Linked DNA regions of Homo sapiens: region 1 is linked to region 2. Evidence: fine-mapped expression QTL. Tissue or cell type: whole blood. Region 2 holds a variant in brackets; the other region holds the start of a gene. All regions are shown on one strand. Distances are between the middles of the regions. Region 1 holds the start of ZFAT (zinc finger and AT-hook domain containing). Region 2 overlaps ZFAT (zinc finger and AT-hook domain containing).

Region 1 (11,396 bases), 68 kb after region 2:
CTACTCTATAACCCAGAAATTCCACTCCTATGTACTTATTAACCCAGAAGAAATGAAAATAAATATCCACAAAAAGGCTTGTACGGGAACATTCACTGCAGCTTTATTCCCAATAACGAAAAACTGGAAATAGACTATGGCTGTATCCACGCAACAGAAAGAAACAAACTACTGAATCTCAGAAGCTTTATGTTGAATAAAGGAAACCAGACACAAAAGAATTATATGATGTTCTATAGAAGAAGAAACTCATCTATGGTGACATCAAGACTAGTGGTTGCGGCCGGGAGTGGTGGCTCACGCCTGTAACCCCCAGCCCTTTGGGAGACCGAGGTGGGCAAATCACTTGAGGTCAGGAGTTCCAGACCAGCCTGGCCAACATGGTGAAACCCCGTCTCCACTAAAAATACAGAAATTAACCAGGTGTGGTGGTATCCCCCTGTAATCCCAGCTACTCGGGAGGCTGAGGCAGGAGAATTGCTGGAACCTGGGAGGAGGAGGTTGCAGTGAGCCGAGATCGTGCCATTGCCCTCCATCCTGGGCAACAAGAGCAAGACTCCATCTCAAAAACAAACAAACAAAAAAAGACTAGTGGTTGCTTGGGGTGAGGAGCAGGGATGGGATAGTAAGGGGCAAGAGAAAACTTTCTGGGCTGATGAAAAAGTTCTGTATATTGTTAGGAGTGTGGGTTATGTGAGTGGTCAAACTCTACACTTAAGGTCTATGCATTTCAGCATGTATATAGTACGCCAAAAAAAAAAAAAAGAAAGAAAGAAAAAACCTGTCTCCTGGCAGCTGCCAGAGATCTTTCTTTCTGAAAGGCTAATTAGCCAGCCTTGTTATCTTCCTGTCCCTCAACATTTCCAAGATAAAGTCCTGACAGCTTCCCACTACTCAAAGGCCCTTCATCACAGACCTCCAGCACCCCATGCCCCTCCCCAAACTCAGTGCTCACCTGGTCACAAAGGGTGGGTCACACCTGTGTCACTGTACCAGCTGTCCTTTCTACAGGGCACCTCTGCTCACCCTACAAGACCCAGCTCAAAACATCTCCTCCTTCAGGAAGCCTTCCCACAATCCCTGGGGCTGGGGTAGATGCACCCCCTCTGAAACCCTCAATACTCAAGGCTTACTTCCATCACAGCACCTAGACCCATTCCTACAGGAATCCGTTTTCCACTGCCAGGACTGCATGAAATCCTCAAGAGGAAAGAACATGTCATATTGGACTTTGCATGCCTAGCAAACAGCACAAAGTTTGGCATAAACATCTAGGTAAACTGATGACCAGCCTAATAGTAAAAAAAAAATTAATAAGCAATAATAATAACCCTAAGGGGCAGAGAAATGGTAGCCACTCCTGAAGAAGAGGCCCACCAGCAGGGACACAAGGAGAATATCTAACACTAAGAAAGAAGCCAGTTAGAGCCCTACAAGAAGTCTTGGGGCTGAATTAAAATGCCCTCCAGCAATGCCAGGACACCCCAAGCTCTCCTGGTCCTTGGCTCCAGGTCCCATGGCTGAGCTGGTCCTCTTTTCCCCCACTGCCCACTATGGGATGCTGCCCCTTTCTTATTCAGACAACCCGCAGCTTCCACTGGCATCCTCTAAGGCCAGGTCCCTACCCCACCCATCCTGCCTTGATCAGACTGTGTTGAACACAAAGGCATCCGATTCCAGAGTTCCACCTTTTGCAGCTCCATGTATTACATGATTTAAAATAACTCAAAAGATTTGAAACCAGTATATTGAAAGGAATGACTGAACCATGTTCACTGTTGTGCTATTCACAATAGTCAAGTATGGAATCGGCCTCAGTGGCCAACAACACATGAATGATTTTTTTAATGTGGGACATATACACAACGGAATATTATTCAGCTGTAAAAAAGAAATGTTGTCGTTTGTGACAACATGGATGAAACTGGAGAACACTGTCCTAAGTAAAATATGCCAGCACAGAAGGACAAACACTGCATGTTTTCTCTTACATGTGAACTCTAAAACAATGGAGCTCAAAGAAGCAGAGAGTAGAATGGTGGGTACCAGAGCCTGAAGGTGTAGGAAGAAATGATGATCAAAGGCTACAAAGCCTCAATTAGACAAGAGGAATCGTTTTTTTCTTTGAGACATATTGCACAGCATGGTGAATACAGTAATAACGTACATTTCAAATTTGCTAAGAGTAAATTTTAAATGTTTACTTACCACAAAATGATAACTATTTGAGCTGATGGATATGTTAATTAGCTTGATTTAATTATTCCACATTATACTCATAAATCATAACATCACATTATACCCCGTAAAGAAACAAATATGTCGTTACAGTTTTTTTAATTTAAAAAAAGATTATGTTACCCAATTTTAAGTCCGTGTTTTTCTATAAATATGCCAAGCATTATCTTTATAAGTAAACTCAATCATCTATATATTTTGTGTTCCTTGAAAAAAAAGGAGGCAACTTTAAATCTGTAAGATGTTTAAAATGTCTATTTTGTTTTGCTCTGCTTTTTCTTTTCTCTTTTAAAAAAAAATTACTCGGCCAGGCACAGCGGCTCACGTCTGTAATACTGGCACTTTGGGAGGCTGAGGCAGGCGGATCACCTGAGGTCAGGAGTTGGAAACCAGCCTGACCAACATGGTGAAACCCCACCTCTACTAAAAGTACAAAATTAGCGAGGCGTGGTGGCGCATGCTTATAATCCCAGCTACTTGGGAGGCTGAGGCAGGAGAATCGCTTGAGCCCAGAAGGCAGAGGTTGCAGTGAGCCAAGATCACACCATTGTGCTCCAGACTGGGCAAAGAGCAAAACTCCGTGCCAATAAATTAATTTAATTTAATTTTTAAAAATGACTTATTTAAAAAAAATTACTCGGCTGGGCACAGTGACTCAAGCCTATAATCCTAGCATTTCAGGAGGCCGAGGCCAGTGGATCTCTTAGGCTGAGTTCAATACCAGCCTGGTCAACCTGGTGACACCCCATCTCTACAAAAAATACAAAAATTAGCCAGGTGTGGTGGTGCACCCCTGTAGTCCCAGCTATTCAGGAGGCTGATGTGGGAGGGTGGCCTGAGCCTGGGAGTCTCTGCCTTTCCATCCACAAATGCTTTCAAGAAGAGAGTGGATGACAATGTACTGAGCTGTACACTGGGAAGTCTGGTTCTGGGAAGGGAAGAGACAAACCCCATTTCCTGAATGCCATCAGCAGCCACCTGTGGCAGGACTGTGTCTCCTTTGCCGGTGAAGGGACTGGGGTCCCAAGGGTTCTGTGACTTCCCTTAGGTCAGGAATCTGGTGAGAGGCAGATCTCTGGAGCCAGAGCACGTGCTCTTTCTACCCTCCTAAATGTTCCAGCCCTTAAAGTTGATGCCTGCCCTTGAGAAATTGCAAATCAGTGAAACTTTAACAGGGTAAACAGCTGAGAAGAGAGGGAAAACTTAACTCTAGGCTAAATCTCTTTTACGTAATTAAATCAGCCCATCTTGGTGCAGAGTTTTTCAGAGGCTGTATGCTTGAAACTATCTACAAAGGGAAATGCAATTAAGGAGACTTTTTAATATATCTGATTCTTGACTGCCCTTGCTCTAGGCAAGAGCTTAATTCTACTTAACAATAGCTATCTTGCAAAAGTTATGTAAATTGCAAGGTATGGGGAGAAAAGAAACAGGAATCCTTTCACCGGAGGCAAATGAGAAGCCCACTGAGAAGGGAGCACTGCGGTAAGACGGCTCCAATTCACACAATGACCATCTCAGCTCATTTGCCACCTACAGCTGTGCCCTGTAGACCACATGCAACTCCACCTCCTTATCATTCATTGTACTCCCTTTCCTAAATTAACCAAAACAGGAAACTCTTTTCAGAAATTAGCTGACCATGAGTTGACAGTAACACATTTTAAAATATGATCTTTTCTCATTTGGTACAGCTGGAAATTGAAGGAAACTTCAACATATGTCCAGGGTTCTTTTTTAAAACTCTTGGGTAAATTCCAGAAGTGGAGAAGTGGGCAACTCATTCTCTCTATATAAGCAACAACGTGGGAGGAGGAAGGCACCAATCGAAAAGATATTTCACGTTTATCAAAATGGAGTCACTCATGTCAAACTCTAACAAAATGGAGCCAGAGGATAGGAAGGAAGGGCCCTCATGCAAGTATGCCTATGACAGGAACTATGCCAGGAATTCCTTAGAGCCTGTTACTTGCACAGGACACTTGCCTGGTGCACCTGTCTCCAATGGACTAATGCCAGCTCCTGCAATAAACCTCTGAAACCAATGGTCTTTGTTTCAAAACCGCTTAGGTGGACTTCCCTTTTGGGTCTTTAAAAGTTTCCATTTGCCCCAACTTCTTTGGACGTACCTATGATCCAGCATAGCGCATGTATCTAAATTGCAATCCCCTATTATTCCCAAATAAACTACAGTTTCAGGATCCCATATCCAAAATGCTTGGGACCAGAAGTTTTAGAATTCCAGATGTTTTTGGATTTTGGAATATTTGCATATACATAGTGAGATAACCTGAGGATGGGACCCAAGTCTAAACATGAAATTTATTTATGTTTGATGTGCACCTTATACACACAGTCTGAAGGTAATTTTACAATATTTTTAATTTTGATCATGAAACAAAGTGTACAATGAACCATCAGAAAGCAAAGGTGTCACTATCTCAGCCACACATATGGGCAATCTGTGGTTGTCTGGCATCGCCATCATTCCCGACTCTGAATTTCTATGCTACCAATAAGACAATCACTTTCTTACATTTATTTACACATAAGTCCTTACCAGTAAAAAATATGACACACCATTAATACAGTGAAAAACAAGGTGTTCAAGGTACCTAAGCGGCACAGCAGCATCACCAGAACACATGCATCAGCTGCTAAACAACAGAACAATAAACAACGGCTGGCTTTAAGTCTGCTGTTCAGCCTGCATTTCTTTCTGAGTGTTAACAGCATCGTCTTTACAGTTGTGCAACTGTTGTTTTGTTTTGTTTTTTGAGAAAAATAGAGATGGGGTTTCACTACACTGCCCAGGCTGGTCTTGAACTCCTGGACTCAAGGGACCCTCCCGCCTCAGACTCCCAGAGTGCTGGGATTACAGGCGTGAGCTACTGCGCCCGGCTATGGAACTGCATTTCTGCTGAGAACCTTCACGAGGTCAGATAGAAAATTTTCCACTGTGGCCTCATGTCAGTGCTCAAAGTTTCAGACTTTGGAGCATTTCCGATTTCGGATTTTTGGATTAGGGATGCTCAACCTGTATTTGGAGAGCAAGTCTCTCCGGTGCTCATTTTAGGCTAACCTAAGACAGCACACCTGAATCAGCTGGGCACCACAGCTAATCAGCGCACCTGTGGTCACAGCTACTTGGCAGGCTGAGGCGGGAGGTTTACCTGAGGGCGGGAGGCAGAGGTTGCAGTGACCCGAGATTGCACCATTGCACCCCGGCCTGAGTGATAGTGCGGGACTCTGTCCCAAAAAATTAAAAAAATTAAATTAAAAAAAAGCACGCCTGATATAGTTCGGGTCTCCTGACCCAATATTCGGCTCTGGGCCCACTCTGTCACTCCAGGACACATTCTCCCACATCTAGCACCGCAGCAGGTGGAGGCAGGACTACGACTGGGACTGCTCTTTACCCCTGCCTGGCGTGCAGAGGGGATCCTTGCAAAGCTGTTATTTGAACTAAAGTCAGGAAAGGTGTCCCTGGGGGTTAGAGGTAGGACACGCTACTTCCTTCAGCATGGGGACACACACTACAGATGTTTCAGTAGATGAACTGGTAGGCTCGGAAGATAAAGCTGGTGAGAGGCAGCTGTGCGGGGCATCTCCAAAAGGTCACTTGGACTCCAGCAAAAAAAGCCAGACTGATGGGCAGGCGTGATCAGTTAGCGCGTTCGTTCTTTCATTCACTAAGTATATAGTGAACACTTACATGAGCCAAGCCCTATTCTAAGAAGATGGAGGTACAAGTCAGGCGAGCACGCAGGAGTTTGGATTTTAGCCCAAGTTGGAGGAAGTTAATTTTTAAAGCCCCAGCTCTGTCGTTTTTAAACTGTGTAAAGTTGACCTCTCTGAACTTCTGTTCCTCATAATAAATGACCTACAAATTAGAGTTCTCAAGAGAGCTGAGCAGCAAAACGTGTTAAGTCAGTGCCCAAATGTGGAAGCTTGTGGTAATTACAGGTGAAGGACCCCAAGCTCAAGGTTAAATGACTTGCACCGGGTGTCAAGTGGAAGATCTGTCACTCTATTAGGTCCAGCCGGCGGCCGGGAAGCCTGCAGGAGGTACTCATTTCGCCAAGGAGGAATCCGAGGCCAGGCAAGAAGGAAGCCCCGCCAAGGTCCAGTCAAAGAGCTGGCATCGCCGGGATTCGAACCTCGCGCCCACTGCGTTCCGTCGCTGGCCCGCGCCCCAACGCCACCCATTGCCGTGGAAACGGCCGGGCGCATGCTCTCCCACTCGCTCCCGCCTTGCTTTTTTTTTTTTTTTGCGGCGGGATACCCCAGCGACTGAACGTGAGCCGCAGAACGCAACTACGTTCGCTCTCCTCCCCAGACCCGGATCCCTCCGCGGCCGGCGGCCGGCGGCCGGCGGCCGGCGCACTGCTTCCCGACTCGACGCTCGAAACGGCTTTCCGCGCGCCGCGCCGCGCCCCACCCCCACCCCGTCTCACCCCAACCCCCAGCCCGGCTCACCTGCCGCCCGCGTCTCCATGGCAACGCCCCACCGCGGAGGAAAAAAAAGCCTCGGGCTCTTCCGGGCCCCCTCCCGTGCCGACCGAGGGGGCGGGGCGCCCTGCTGACGCTTCGCTTTTTATTTTTATTTTTTTAAGAAAAGAGCCGGCGAGGTTATGGCGAATCTGCGGCATCCAACATGGCGGATGGAGTCTTCGCCCTCCTCCCCACGGGGCGCAGACGCCTGCGTAGCGGACGTCCGCTTCGGGTGACCCTCCCCCGGCGCCGAGCGCGGCCCGGCAGGGCCGAGCTAACGCGCATGCTCGCAGTCGGAGGCCGTGCTTTTTATCCCACTTCACGGATTCCGCTGCGCCGCGTTTTGAGCCACGCCCAGGGAGGGGCCCTCGGGAGGTCCGGAGCGCGGATCTCGGGGTCAGGAGTCTGGCGGTTGTGCCAGGCCTCTGCTAGCGCGACCCTAGACCCGCGGCATGTGGGGCCGCCGAGCTGGGCGTGCAAGGAGAGTTCTGGGTGCGCTTCGTGTCCCAGCTCTACCTCTCACTACCTAACTTGGGGCAGCGAATTAACTTTTCTTGCTCTCAGTTTACTGATGTGTCCATCGGGGTGCTCCCAACCTGCATCCCGCTCAAAGCTGCGGCGTTTCCCGAAGCGTGGGGTGCTTTCCTTTGGGCCACCCGGCTGGGTTTTAGGGGCTACAGAGCACTGAGCGGCCTACGATCACACGTGACAAGGCGACTTCCTCCTCTCTCGTCTCTTTTTGTCCCACAACAAGTCTGCACTGGATGTGCGCGCCTCCAACACCCGCTCATTCATTTCTCTGCTTGTGGCACAGCCTTCGGCAGGCAGCTGAGTCTGGTGGAAATTTAATGACTTTGTTTTTGGTTTTGATGTTAAGGTGTTTAGCTCCAACACTGTAGTCCTCGGCTCAAATGATATCTTCCAGCCCCTAACCCTCACCCCCCGAAACCCATCTAAAGTAACCCTCCAAGACACTTCATATTTTCTACGTAGCATCCATTCCTATCTGTCATTATCTCCCTCCCTTACCTCTGTCAATGGTCACCCCGTTAGCCTCAGAAACAAACTGAGCCTGACAGTTATTTATTTCATGAGTAATGAGTTGATGTGGTCCATGTTCTAAGGTCATTTTCTGTTCATGACAAATAACGTTTTTCACTTACAGTAGTCATATAAAGTTTTTAAATTGTTCGTTTACATTTTCAAAAATCAGTCAACTTAAAATGGTGTACATGCTGCAAAGACATGCCCCCCCCCCCCCAAAAAAAAAAAGTGTAAAAGCAGACTTCAGGAGACTGAAGTTTGGGAAACTGATTTGTGTTCATGGTTCCCCTGAAATGCTAGTCTTTGCCTGTTCTTCTTTTCCTGGAATAACCCTCTTTGGTTGCTGCTCAACATGAAATTCTCGGACAGCCCTGAAGTTCACACTTCATGTTCCCACAGCTCTGGTCTCACTGGCCTAGCTCCATCCCCCACTTCTCTGTTTGCACAGCGTTCATCCTCACTAGACTGAGCTTCCTGAGCAGCCCTTATAGGTCCTTTTCATCTTGTTTTCTCAGCGCCTGTTGCATAGTCATATTACTGAATGAACACTTCGTTCTGGGGTCACTTATTTTTTAGGAGGAAAACTCCCTTGGGCATTGAGCTTCAGGATGACTCATCTGATTTCTCAGGAGACTGCCCGCCTGCTCCTTAACCCTGTTCTTGGGAAATACGGAACCATGAAAAGACCCTAAAGTTGTCCAGTCTGTTAAATATATGCTCACAGATATAGCCTCCCCCTTCTTCATTTCATCCTCGCAATCTGGAAGGTTAAGTTGGGCAATATGATTATTGTCCTTTTCCAGATGAGAAAATGGAATGTTCAGAGTGGTCAAATGGCTTTCTGAGATTACACAGCAAAATAGTGAAGAGCCAGGTGTGGATCTCGCCTCTCCATGCCCAGTGTTCCTCTCCCCACCACATCTAAAATGTACCCAAACTGCCCCCCAGGCCTCCAGGAGAGCCTCCAAGAGAGCCAGTTCCAAGACAGCCACAGAGTCGCTTCACAGCCACCACGTCCTCCACCACAAGATACATGGCTAGGTGGGGCCCATCAGAATCTTTATTTGGAAATGAACTGCTCAAAAAGCTGCATTGATGAGCGTTTCCTTTTAGAACTATAAATATTTACAATAATCATTATTTTGCTGTGAATCGATTTCTGTCAGGAAATTAGAGTTGTTCTGGGTTGCTGACAGTATTGGTTTTGTGCCGGTTTGCCTTTCTCACAGCAGCGTTTAAATGTTGTTTATTGATTAGCAGATGGATTGCTCCTAGATGTTGTGACCAAACGAATTTTGGAAATGAAACAATTTAAAATTTGTCTCAAAACCCAATTACCTCAGACTGCTGAAGACAAATTAAAAGAAGAAATTGTGGACTGTGGATGATGGTTCTGGGTTAATTATTTGGAAAGCTATGATTTTCTCCACTATTCCCATGGCATTTTCTTCCTCCTACCCATTCATCATTCAGAGAAGAGTTACTGAGCACCTATTATTACTGGAAACTGTCCTGGCCATAGGCAGATGGAAATGACTAAGAGATGGCCCCTTTCTGTGGGGGAATCCAGGTTCGTAAATGGAGAGATGAGTCCACAGCTGGCTCTTCCACGGCCTTACTATGTGATTTGCACATTTTCAATCAGCAAACATCTCTATTCTTTCTATTTGCCAGTAATATTTCAGAATGCCTTCAATTAATGAAGACACATTTGTGGAATTGGATGTAAATCACTCGAAAGTATATAATTAATGGCAAGCTGCCTCGGTGATGGTTCCTAGAAGAGAGCGGCTTCCCAGCTGACCACTGGTGGCAGTTGGCCTCTTGAAGCTAGTATGTGAATTAATTTGTGTCAATAAATTTATCGACATGAAATGGTATTTAGTTATATAAGAAATATAATTTGCACAACTGAATATATTCGTGTCAATAATTTTATCATTATATCCAATATCTTTATGAGAAATAGACATTTACATGAAAACAATAATTTAGGAACATAATTTCACAGGATGCTTTCTTGAAAGAAGGTTTTGATAAAGGATACATACAGGCGACCTCAAAATAATGGATCTTGGCTGGGCATGGTGGCTCATGCCTGTAATCCTAACACTATGGGAGGCCAAGGCTGGAGGATTGCTTGAGCCCAGGAGCTCAAGGCTGCAATAAGCTGTGATCATGCCACTGCACTCCTCCAACCTGGGCAGCAACAAAGCAAGACCCTGTCCCTAAAATTTATTTATATATATATATATATGTATATATGCACACACACACACATATATATATATATGCATATGTATGCACACACACATATATATCTATAAAATGATAAAATCAGAGGTGGGAATAATCAGTTTGGGTTAACAGTTAAAAATCTAAATAGGCACATTGTAGAAAATAATCCACTTAAAAATCATATAAAAGAGAAGGATGTAGTAATGCTAGAACTATATGAGCAATCTCACTATGAACATAATTACAAGATTAGGAAACAGCATCTTTTCCACCTGTCTTTCCAGTGGCCATGGAGTGCCATCACATCCCCGGTCTGCCTGTGCACACCTGTGTGTACTCTCAGTACCCAAGTATTAATCTCCGGAGTGGTTTTCATTAGCAGTAGCCAGGGCCCCTTCAAAGAAGCTAATTCCATGTGTGGGAGTAAGGGAACATCAGAATGGCCTGAAACATATTGCTATTCTCAGAAAACCAGGTTCCTTCCAAAAATGCTGGGTTAGTGCTGAAAGGACAAAGGAAGAGGCAGTGACAATTTGCATATCACAACAACTGTAGATCTATGGTTGTTGATCTACAAGTTGAGCCATGAGGCTTTACTGATAAAAAGTTAACATTGTATATGCAAAAATAGACATATAACTGTGTAATTACAAAACTAGTTACAATTCAAAGAAAGGGTCAAAATAGGATATTTTAGTAAAGAGACAGGTTTGGTAGATATGGGGTCCTATTTCTTACTTGAAGTTCTGTATGTCTGTTTATGAAATGGTATATTTGTGTAAGTTTCGAGGGGCAGATAAGTTTACTAAGAGTAAGTCAAAGACTTCCAGAAGACTAGGAACCATGCCAAAACCAGGAAGGGCAGGTCAGGACCAGTGGTCTCATAAATAACCAGCTAAAAGGGGGGTTCAATAATTTATGTTGGAAGTTAATGGATTAGCCAGATGTCCTAAGGGAGTAGCTGATAGATTAAACTGCTATATGGCCCTGCTAATGTTAATGAAATGCTAATGATGCATAATGAAGGTCATTGTAAACTGTGGCAGAACATCATGGACCCAAGACTTCATGCACATGGGAGTGAAGATTGCAAGAACTTGCTGTAAGTCCTCTTGACTTAATAGTTGAAAATGGTCTGAGGGAGCCCCCACCAGCAAATGCCTGCTGCCACCAAGAACCCACCAGTCCAGGCCCAAGGCTGCCACTCAGTGCACCTGGGAAGGAGATCATCTTTCTCTCTGTGGTCCAATAAGGGCAGTCCTGAAAAAGTATAAAAATATGTTTTGTAGAGATGACAAAGAAATTGGTCAAGTCAATAACAACTCTTTTTTTTTTTTTTTTTTTTTTTTTTTTTTTTTTTGAGACGGAGTCTCACTCTGTCG
Region 2 (11,396 bases):
AATCTAAAGCCACAAATTATAGCACTAAAGACAATAACAATATTTTTCCAGTTTCCTAGCGACCTAGTGATTTTCAATGGCATGATCACAGCTGCTTTAGAGCAAGTTTAAAATCATTTTACAACTTGTGTTTCTTCTCAATTAGTGTTAATTTTTAAGGCATTCATCTCCGGAATGAAGGTGGGAATTAAGAGGGGTGAGCGGGGGCCAGGCGCGGTGGCTCACGCCTGTAATCCCAGCACTTTGGGAGGCCGAGGTGGGCGGATCACGAGGTCAGGAGATCGAGACTATCCTGGCTAACATGGTGAAACTCTGTCTCTACTAAAAATACAAAAAAAAAACAAAACAAAAAAAAAAAACATTAACCAGGCGTGGTGGCGGGCACCTGTAGTCCCAGCTACTCAGGAGGCTGAGGCAGGAGAATGGCGTGAACTGGGAGGCAGAGCTTGTAGTAAGCTGAGATCACACTACTGCACTCCAGCCTGGGCAACAGAGCGAGACTCCATCTCAAATAAAAAAAAAAAAAGATGGGTGAGCAGGGCAGGGAGCAGAGCATCTCATCCAGTTGTGTGAAGGTGGAGGGGTGTGGTCTTCAACGATGAGACTTAGGAGATGTCCCTGAGCGAGACCAAGCAGAGAGCCGCCAGCAGCCTGGCTGACATCCCCAATGCCAGTCATCTGTCTGGCAGAGGAGTGGCACTTCAGCAACCCTCTTTGAACCTGAACATTGGGGTAGAGGAAGGAGTACTAGATTCTGGCACCATCTTGGGTACACGTGCATCTGTAGAATGTCTCTCAGGTCCCTTCCTGCTCTCTCTAAAGCTGTTGCTCTGCACAGTAGGACACCAGCCACTTTATCTACTGCTATTACCATGAGGACCCGTTAAGTAAGTCACTTGTGCTCACAAATCAGAGAGGGAGGCCACAGGGGCAAAGGGGAGCAGAGATGGGCAGAACAGTCTGGGGCAGAGTCTGCAGGGACACAACAGCCTGACCACAGGGAATCTGAACAAAGAAGCCTGCCTTGGTACGGGGTACCCAAGACCTCAGGGAAACCTGGCACCAGAATGAAGCAAGAGATTTCCTGGGAAAGGAGGGCCCTTGCTGGAACAGAGCTTCAACCAAACTGCAACGCCACTGGTGAGTGGGTCAGCCTTGGCTGAAAGATCCAAACCAGAGTCCTGCACTAAGGCAACCAGCGAGATTCCTGCCTTCACTCTATCTCCCTGGGGCATGGTGGGCAGGGGAGCACAAAGAAGAAGAAGGTACTTAATGATAGGAAGGCAAACCAGATAAAACAAGGGACAGAAGGCCCTGGGAGCCCTCCCTAGATTTAAACAAGGAGAAAAAAGCCTGTGTTTACAGGAGAACCAGCCTGTGTGCAAGGGAGATGGGAGGAAAGAAATACAAGGTACAGAGTAAGAAACCATTTCCCTTGGAGTCTTTAAAACTTTTCTCCTTATTCTTCTTCACAACAACGTGTACTTGCACAATCTACTGAAGCAGCAATTCATATCAGAGAAGCAGAATTAGCAGAGAGGCTACAAAACACCCACCTCGTGTCATGTCAGCTGAGTTCCAGAAACAGGGTGCCTAAGAGTTTACTGAAGCCTGCGGCCCAGGTCTAAACCCAGTGACAGACTCTGCCATCCCGCAGACACAAGCCACTCCCCTGAAACACTCTATGAGGATGTGATTGTGAGTGAAGAATTAACTTTACCCAAAGAGAAGTCTGGCCTTTGCCCTTGGCTACAGGGAGGTGATTTCTAGGCCCCCGGATGTCCCTCCTGATGTCCTATGTTGTAGTTGGGAGAGAGGTAACTTTGCTCAGGACTCCATGGGTGGACCAAAAGCTCCACGTCTAGAACCTTCCCAGTCTGCAACTTTACCCACACACCTCTCTCCCTTTAACTGGCTCTCTGATTTGCATCCTTTGAGTATAATCAAATTATAATCATGAGGACAGGGCTTTCCTGAGTTGTGTGAGTTATTCTAGCAAATTATCAAAGCTGAGAGAGGCCGCAGGGACCTTCCAAATCTGTAGTAGTAAGAAAGAAGTAAAGGTGGTCCAGGAGACCCTCCAAACTTGTGGCTGGTATCAGGAGTCTTGGGCAGACTTGGTCGTCTTGCGGAGAACTGTGCCCTTAAGCTTGAGTTTGGCAAACTTACTATTGCGGGGTAGCCAGTGTTTTCTCCACACAGACTCAATGGAGCACAGACAGCCACAGTGTTTGCACTTGCTGGAGCACAGCACAGCGTGTGGTACAGCAGACATCGTGAGTCTCCACTCCCCCAGACTGGAGACTCCTCGAAGGCAGAGTCCCTGTCCTGATTACTTTTTATCCCCCTCGCACCTAACCTGGTGCCCTGAGCAGCAGGCAGCCAGCAAATCTGGGTGAATTAAACTGATGAGCAATGCACAATTAATTCCAAGGCAAGGAAAAAATAAAATCGGCCTGAAAGCTTTGGAAAACCTCAAACACGATGGTGACAAAACTAATCTTCCAGCTTGCTGCATCCATAATTCAGATCCTCAAGACCAATTAGCTAGCTAAAAATGAAATATTCATGAATGAACTTGAATAATTTAAGCTCTGAAAATGAGTTGCTGCTGTCAACTACTCGCATTTTATGGCAGAGCTGAGAATCTTGGGACTGGGCAAGGAAAATCATGTAACCTCTAAATCAAAACATTTCAATGGAGTTAGCTTTAATTCCTCTTCCTCCCTCTGAATTCCTTTATTTAATCTGTCACTAAACTCTATGGACTTTGCCCTAAAGATGTCTCTCCAGTAAATCCCCTCTCTGTTCACACAGCAACCTCACCACCCAGATGCCTGCACACGGTGTCCAGATTCCAGCCTCCTGCTCTGGGCTTTCTCTGCCTCCATCCCTCATCTGTCATTCCCTCACTCTAGAACCTTCCATTGTTCTGGATGATTTTGCCCACAACTCTCAGGCCTGGCCTTCAAGGTCCTTTAGCACGTGATCCAACCCTGCACATATGCACACACAGACACACACACCTGCACACACACACACATTCAGTGACCCCACTTCCTTCTTCCTCCCCCTTAACTGCTCAGGGCAATTTTCTAGACCTCCCCAAATATACACAGAGAATCCCCGTCTCTTTTCACTTACTTGTACTATTCTCCCAAGCTGTGACCACCTCCTTCACTACCAATCAGAGACCAAGCCCCAGTTCAAATCCTAACATGTCCGGTCCAGTTAAGACCTCAGTGCCTCCTCCATGAGGTGTCCCCAGCTAAGTGAGCAGGATGACTACCCCCACAGCTTGATGTGAATTACAGTGTGAGCCACACACACGTAGGGTGTGTATGCGCCCACACCACTCCCTGATTGTTTCGATTTTTCCCCACCTTTTATGACAAACCCTGAGGTCTGAGCTGGCCTTTTAATTCCTGGGTCCCACAGGGTCTCGAACGGAGCTGGATGTGGAGTAGATACAATTAATAAGTACACACTGATCCACTGTTTGATGATAGAAAAAGAAATATCTGGAAAAGAAGCCATTTCCTGTGTCCCCAGTTTCCAAAAGGAAGAAAGGGCTGAGCCACAGTGCCTCTTAACTCTGCTCTAAATCCACAGTTTGGGGACAACTTCCTCTTAGTCAGAAAATCATCCTTGCAGATCCAAGGCCAAAAACTGGCAAGGGGCAGAGAATCGGCCAAAGGATTACTTCTAACTCAATCAAAACACAACGTGAACACTATGAAAAAATAGCCCAACATTATCAACAATTTAATAACGTAAGCCCTTTATTTGTGCATCACTCAAGTTTGCAAGGCACTTTCCCAGCTATTATCTCATTTTAGCCTTATAAAAATCTTAAGAGATGGATGCAGCAAACACAA[C/T]GTCCTCAATGGGAGAAGAAACAAGGGACACAACGGTTCAAGTGGCTTGGCGCATCTTCCAGAACCAGCTGCTGAGCACGCAGAACTGGAATTTGGGTTTCCTTATTCCCAGTCAAAAATGTATCTGCAGAATCACATACCCCTGAAGCATGGGTAAGAAAAGGTCAGCACTACACACTTTAATAGAGACAATCTGTGCTGTGCAGAGAATGCTGGCTTGGAGCTGGACCGACCTGGGTTCAAATCTCCCCTGAGCCTCCGTTTCCAATGCGAAAAATAAACACAAAACTGCCTCTATTTTATAGAGTCACTACTGATAAAAGCAATCCATTACAATGCTGGGCACAGAACTCAGGAGATGATTGATAAATGGCAACTGTTTAATATTATGGCCATAGTCATTAAGATTCTGACTTAGAATATCTCTTTTAAGAAACTATTATCCTCCCACCTGGTCCACAGTTAGATAATGTGATTTCTTGATGTACATGCATTCTCATTCATTCTGACTCAATACGCATTTTTTCCTTGAGTTCTTCATTTTAAAATAGCTCTCACACCAGGAAATCCAATGTAGAATTAAAGGCACACAAATTTTATTATGCCTAAAACCCTGGATACGGCCAGCTTCCCAGCACTCGCACAGGGCAGCTCAATCTCTAATCACACCAACTCAAGAATTTTGGAAAATCCTGAAAGACTAACATTTTAAGGCCCTGACAGTCAATCTCCCTGACGTTTATTTCCAAAGCTCAGGAAGCAATAGGGGAGACAATGAATTATTTATCATAAATAGGGGAACACAAGCCTCTTAGGTTTATGAGGAATGCAACATCCCCTTTGCAGGGACAGACTGCATCCTGTTCCACAATGCCAGGCACCAGGGAGGCTGAAGGCATCCCAAGCTTGCTCCTTGTACTTTTACCAGCCATATCGTGGAAATGCCACGTAAATAATGGTGATAACTAATCATTATTAAGCACATATATCTCAGGCACCATGCTAAGCACTTCACATGCACGTCCTCATTTAATCCCCAAGGGAGGCATTAGTATGATCCCCATCATATAGTAGAGGTCACTGAGGCTTAAGAAGATTAACTTATTTGCTCCAAGGTCAGGGAATTAATAAATGGCAGAATCAGGAATTGAATACAGACCTGTTTGCCTCAAAGTCAGTGAACTTCATACCCATGTCATAGCAAGTCCTTTGGACAGTTCAATTAATATCTAAGCACAGAAATAATATACTTTGACCTCTTCACTAAGTTCTGCAGGAAAATGACGATAGTCTCATGCAGTGACAAGCTTCAGTGTGATCCCACTCCCTGGGCTGGAAAGTACACGGATGTAAGGTACAGGAGGGTACAATGTCTAACAGGCAGTCACTATGGACTAAGGCATCATGTATGAACATGCACTTGTCTCAGAACCTATGAAAAAGGTCAGTATCTTATCTCTCTTTGACAGGTGACAAAAGTCACAGCCATGCCACTTGTCTAAGTCCCCAGCAGAGCCTCAAGGCTGTGGTGCAGGCTGTACCCTGTGTGAGGCGGTGATTGAAGACTTACCAGGGCCAAATTCCACTAGCCAAGCTGTGTGCTCCGGCACTGGCTGCATCAGCCCTGAGCACGTTTTATGTTTGTTCACCCAGAAACAGCTCCTGTTACTAGCTCATCCCCTCAGAATGGGGGCGCCTTTTGTAATCTGCACAAAGGTCCCTATGTGCCAGCCAAGGCTCCAGCAATCACATGAAAGCTCCAGGAATGGAGCCTAAGTCTGATTCCAAGACGTGTGCCCTTTCCACTACACTGCGCTGCTGACCAGGGCAGATCAGAGTGCTCAACATTCGTACATGCACTCAGAATGACTGGATTTGTGGTAAATGCCCAGAAGAGACAACATACAGATTTAAACATAGACATCAACTTCCCCTGGGAAGCCTCCTTTTACCCTCACATTAGAGGACGTCTTTAGCAGCCTGAACTTAACCGCGCAGAGGCACTCGCCCTGCTGCACTGAAACTGCCTTTTTGCCTATTTGCCATTCACCAGCTAGGGGGCCAGAGTCAACAGCCTGTGGGCCCCTCCTGCAGCCCCAGCACCTAGCACAGCACCCAGACATACAGCAGGCACCCAACAAACAGTTAATGACTAAAGAGATGGAAAGGGGGAGGGGAGAGGAGAGGAAAGATAAGAAAGGAAGAATTCCTGCAGAGGGTCTGAAATCAGAGAGAAAATGGGAGAGCCAAAACGAGGCTCTCGGGAGACCCATGTACATTCTTCCTCAATTGCCCCAGCCTCCATCAGGATAAATGAATGCATGCGTGTGCACACACACTCTCACACACACATGCTCATACACACCCATATACAAAATCATACACGTGCACACACATATCCATATACACAATCATACACACATACACAAGCACCTATACAACCACACACACATGCACACTCACACACGTACACAACCACATACACAACCCATGTACACAACCACATACACATGTGCACACTCCCAAATGTACCGTATACACAATCTCACACACAAACGTGCACTTACACATGTGCCCACAACCACACACACGTGCACTTACACATATGCCCACGACACACAGCACACTCACAAACGTGCCCATATTCACAATCACACACACATGTATACTCACAATGTGCCCAGATATGCAATCACACACATGCACACTCGCATGCGCACATATACAGTATCACACACGTGCACACTCACACACCATCTATATACACAATCACACAACGTGCACACTCAAACGTGCCTATATACACAATCACATGCACACACACAAACACACCCATATACACACATACCTGTGTACTCACAAACACACCCATACACATACACACAGAGATATGATCACACACACGCACATGGGATCACACACACGAGAATGAGCTTGGTCCATTAGGAAATTTCTTCTTGGATCACAGCCAGAGGTTTGATGAGGAAAAGAGAAGGAAAATGAAAGGTCTTTCTGCAGACCACTTCCTACATGAGCAAAAAAGATTAAAAGGCTATAAAATAAACCAGAGGATTTCAGTGGCTTCACGTTATAACGAGAGACCAAAATAATAAATCAATTACTACTCAGTTAAAGGTTTAATTAAACCATTTCAAGTAGCTCTCAATTTAAAATGAATTGTGAAGGTTAAACCTGAATGAAAATCATTAGAGAGAAACTAAGCCTCTACAAGCCTCAAATTTTATGAACTTTCACAAAGAGAAAAAGAAAGACTTGAAGTTCATAATGAAAGACTTTTTAAAATTTTTTGTCATGTTAAGAGGCTGAGTTTAACTAAGGAATTCATGCTTTTTAAAATTAAACTACACAGACAAAAGTAGTTTAGTATACACACACACACAAAAAAGAAAACATACGGAAGAAGAATTTGTCAAAAGTAAATTATTTAATAAAAGAAAATAATTTATAAAAGTAGGCTCAATGATAAGAATTTGATTATTCCTGGACTACCACCATAACATGCAAATAACATCAAATCAGCTGGGCCTAAATCCCTCCCTCTCACTTACTATATAGGTAATCTTGAACATGCTGTTTTAACTCCTCTGAGTCTCTAAGCCACATATTCCTCAATTATAAAATCTGGGCATCAGCCAGGAAATAGATGTGAATAACCCTATAAACCAACAAATTCTAATACATATACCGAACATGCCACCCAGCAACAGCAGAATACAAAGTATTCTCAAGTCCACATGAAAAATTCTCCAAAACAGACAACATTTTAGGCCATAAGTTAAGTCTCTATAAATTTAAAAGAACTGAGCCAGGCGCAGTGGCTCACGCCTGTAATCCCAGCACTTTGGGAGGCCGAGGCGGGTGGATCACAAGGTCAGGAGTTTGAGAACCATCCTGGCCAACACAGTGAAACACCGTCTCTACTTAAAAAAAAAAATAGAAAAATTAGCCGGGCGTGGTGGCGGGCGCCTGTAGTCCTAGCTACTCAGGAGGCTGAGGCAGGAGAATCGCTTGAAACTGGAAGGCGGAGGTTGCAGTGAGCCGAGATCACGCCACTGCACTCCAGCCTGGGCGAAAGAGCGAAACCCCATCTCAAAGAAAAAAGAATGGAAATCATTCAAGTATGTGGAATTAAATTAGAAATAAAAAGGAAGAAATTTGGGAAATTCAAAAATTTATGAAAATTAAATGGTACTCTTAAATAGCCATTGGGCCAAAAAGGAAATCATAAGGGAAATTAGAAATACTTTGAGATGAACAAAACAAAAACACAACATACCAAAACTTATAGGATGTAGCAAAGGCAGTTCTAAAAAGAAAGTTTATTGCCTACATTAGAAAAAAAGAAAAATCTCAAATAAACAACATAATTTTACAACTCAAGGAATTAGACAAAGAAGAATAAATAAGCCCAAAGTGAGCAGATGGAAGGAAATAATAGAATAGAGCAGAAATAAACAAAATAGAAAAAGAATAAAAAAGATCAACAAACTAAGAGCTTGTTGTTTGAAAAGATAAACACAGTTGAGAAACCCTTAGCTAGACTAACCGAGAAAAAAAGAGAGGCCACAAATGAATTAAATTTTGAATAAAAAAGGACACATTATAACTGGCACCACAGAAAGACAAGTGATCATAAAAGACTACTATCAACAATTATATGCCAACCAACTAGATAACCTAGAAGAAACTGATAAATTCCTAGAATCACACAATCTACCAAGACTGGATCATAAGGAAATAGAAAATCTGAATAGATCAATAACAAGTTAGGAGACTGAATCAGTAATCAAAATCTCCCAACAAAGAAAAGCCCAGGACCAGGTGGTTTCACTGGTGAACTCTACCAAACATTTAAAAAGGAATTAATTCCAGTTTTACTCAAGCTCTTCAAAAAAATTAAAGAGGAGGGAATACCTCCCAACTCATTTTGTAAGGCCAAAGCTAGACAGACACTACAAAAAAAGAAAATTACAGGCCAATATTCCTGATAAACAAAAATACTCAAAAAATACTAACAAACCAAATTCAACAGCACATTAAAAAAATTACACGCCATGATAACGAGGGTGTTATCTCTAAGATGCAAGGCTGGTTCAACATATGTGTATAAATAAATGTGATATATAACATTTATAGAATTAAGGACAAAAATCATACATGATCATCTCAATAAGTATGGGGAAAAGTTTGACAAAATTCAACAACCCTTCATGATAAAAACTCTCAAAAAACTAGATAACAAGGAATGTACCACAACATAATAAAGGAATGTGCTTCAACAAACGACAGACCCAGAGCTAACATAATAATCAACGTGAAAAGCTGAAAGCTCTCCTCTAAGATCAGGAATAGGACAAGGGTGCCTACTCTCACCACTTATATGCTTCCTGGCATTGGAAGTCCTAGCCAGAGTAGTTAGGTAAGCAAAAATACAAAGCATGCAAAGTAAAATGGAAGGAGTAGAACTGTCTCTGTTTGTAGATGACATAATCTTAGATATAGAAAGCCCTAAAGATTATACTTCTAATAGCTTTTGGATAATGTATAAAGTTACAAATGTTACAAGATACAAAATCAACATACAAAGATCTGTTGTGTTTCTACACAAAAACAACTGAAAAAGAAAACGATCCCATTTATAATAGCGTCGAAAAAAATACTTAGGCATAAATATAATCAAGGTGAAAGATCCGTATACTAAAAACCATATCAATGAAAGACATTGAAGACGACACAAATAAATGGAAAGATATCCCACATTTATGGATCAGAAGAATTAATATTGTTAAAATGTTCATACTAACAAAAGCAACCTATAGATTCAATGCATCCTGGGAATCTAAGGTAAAGCATGATGACTATAACTAACAACACTGTATTATATACTTAAAATTTGCTAAGACATATCTTAAATGTTTTCACCACGTACATACAAAAATAATGGTAGCTATGTGAGGTAATAGATGTGTTAACTAACCTGATTGTGGTATCATTTCACAATATATATGTATAACAAATCATCACTGTAAACTTACACAATTTTGTCAAGTATACCTTAATAAAGCTGGAGAAAGAAAGAGAGAGAAGGATCTGAAAGATAAAAGAACTATCTCAAATCAATAGCCTACCCTTTCCAACCTAAGAAAAAAAAACAGAAGCAAGCTAAATCCAATACAAGCAGAAGGACAGAAATAATAATGCCTAGAATGGAAAGAGATTATATAAAATATAGAAAAAGAAAAGAGAAAATCAACAAAACCAATGTTTTTCAAAGATTAAGAAAATGCCAAACCTTCAGCTAAACTTACCAAGAAAAAATAGCAAGACCTAATTTGTTAAAATCAATAATGAAAGGGAGAACATTACCATTTAATCTTACAAAAATCAAAATAATTATTAGAGAATATTAAGAACAATTATATGTCAACAAATTAGACAATCTAGACAAAATGGAAAATTCCCTAGAAAGACAAACTACTGAACCTAATTCAAAAATAGCAAAGATGCATACACCTATAACAAGAGATTGAATCAGTGAAAAAATAAAAAGCCCAGGACCAAATAGTCTCACTGGTGAATTCTACCAAATGTTTAAAGAAGAATTAACACCAATACTTAAAAATTTTTCCAAAAAATAGAAGAGGAGGGAACACTTCTCAAGTCATGCTATGAGGCCACTATTACCCTGAAACCAAAACCAAAGACATCAAAGACTCTAGACCAATATCTCTTATGAATATAAATGCAAATATGTTTAACAAAATACTAGGAAACTGAATCCAGCAGCACAGCAAAAGGATTATGCAACATGACCAAATGAGATCTATCCAAAAGTTACAAGGGTGATGCATCCTGGCATGTAAAAACATCAGTGTAATATACCATATTAATACAACAAATAAGAAAAAAAACCACATGGTCATCTCAACAAACTCAGAAAAAACATCTGACAAAATCCAACACCATTTTATGATTTAAAAAATAAACAACACTCAACAAACCAAGAATAAAAAGAGCTTCCTTAACCTAATGAAGAACATCTATCTCTCACACACACACACACACACACACACACACACACACACCCCATCATACTTAATGGTAAAAGACTGGATACTTTCTTCCTAAGATAGTATCAGAACAAGAATGTCCACTCATCATTTCCACTCAACCCTGTACTGGAGTTTCTTGCCAGGGAAATTGGGCAAGAAAATAAAATACAAAGAATCCAGATTAGAAAGGAAAAAGTAAAATTATCTCTAGTCACAGATGACAAGATTATATGTAAAGACTCCTGAGGAATACACTAGAAAACTAATAAACAAGTTTTTAGAAGTTTTTTTAAAAAACTAATAAACAAGTTCACAAGATCTAATAAACAAGTCCAGCAAAATTGCAGGATAAAATATCTATATACAAATAACAGTTGTATTTATAAACTAGCAATGAGCAATCTGAAAATAAATTATGAAAATAGTTCCATTTACAGTAGCATCG

The links. PIP is the estimated chance that this variant, and not a neighbour inherited with it, causes the effect.
Region 1: it holds the start of ZFAT, and the variant in region 2 is fine-mapped to the expression of ZFAT in whole blood (INTERVAL, PIP above 0.99).

What each region holds. Positions count from the first base shown.
Region 1 is chr8:134,706,128-134,717,523 of GRCh38, forward strand. ZFAT (zinc finger and AT-hook domain containing) reads right to left here and starts at 6,904. Exons shown (of 16, transcript NM_020863.4): 1 at 6,718-6,904. The coding sequence starts at 6,736. RefSeq lists enhancers at 3,301-3,984, 6,736-6,915.
Region 2 is chr8:134,638,219-134,649,614 of GRCh38, forward strand. The region is part of intron 2 of ZFAT (zinc finger and AT-hook domain containing); the gene reads right to left. Among named protein-coding and RNA genes, the nearest start is that of ZFAT, 69 kb to the right of the region's middle. The variant C/T (reference allele first, on the strand shown) is at 3,879.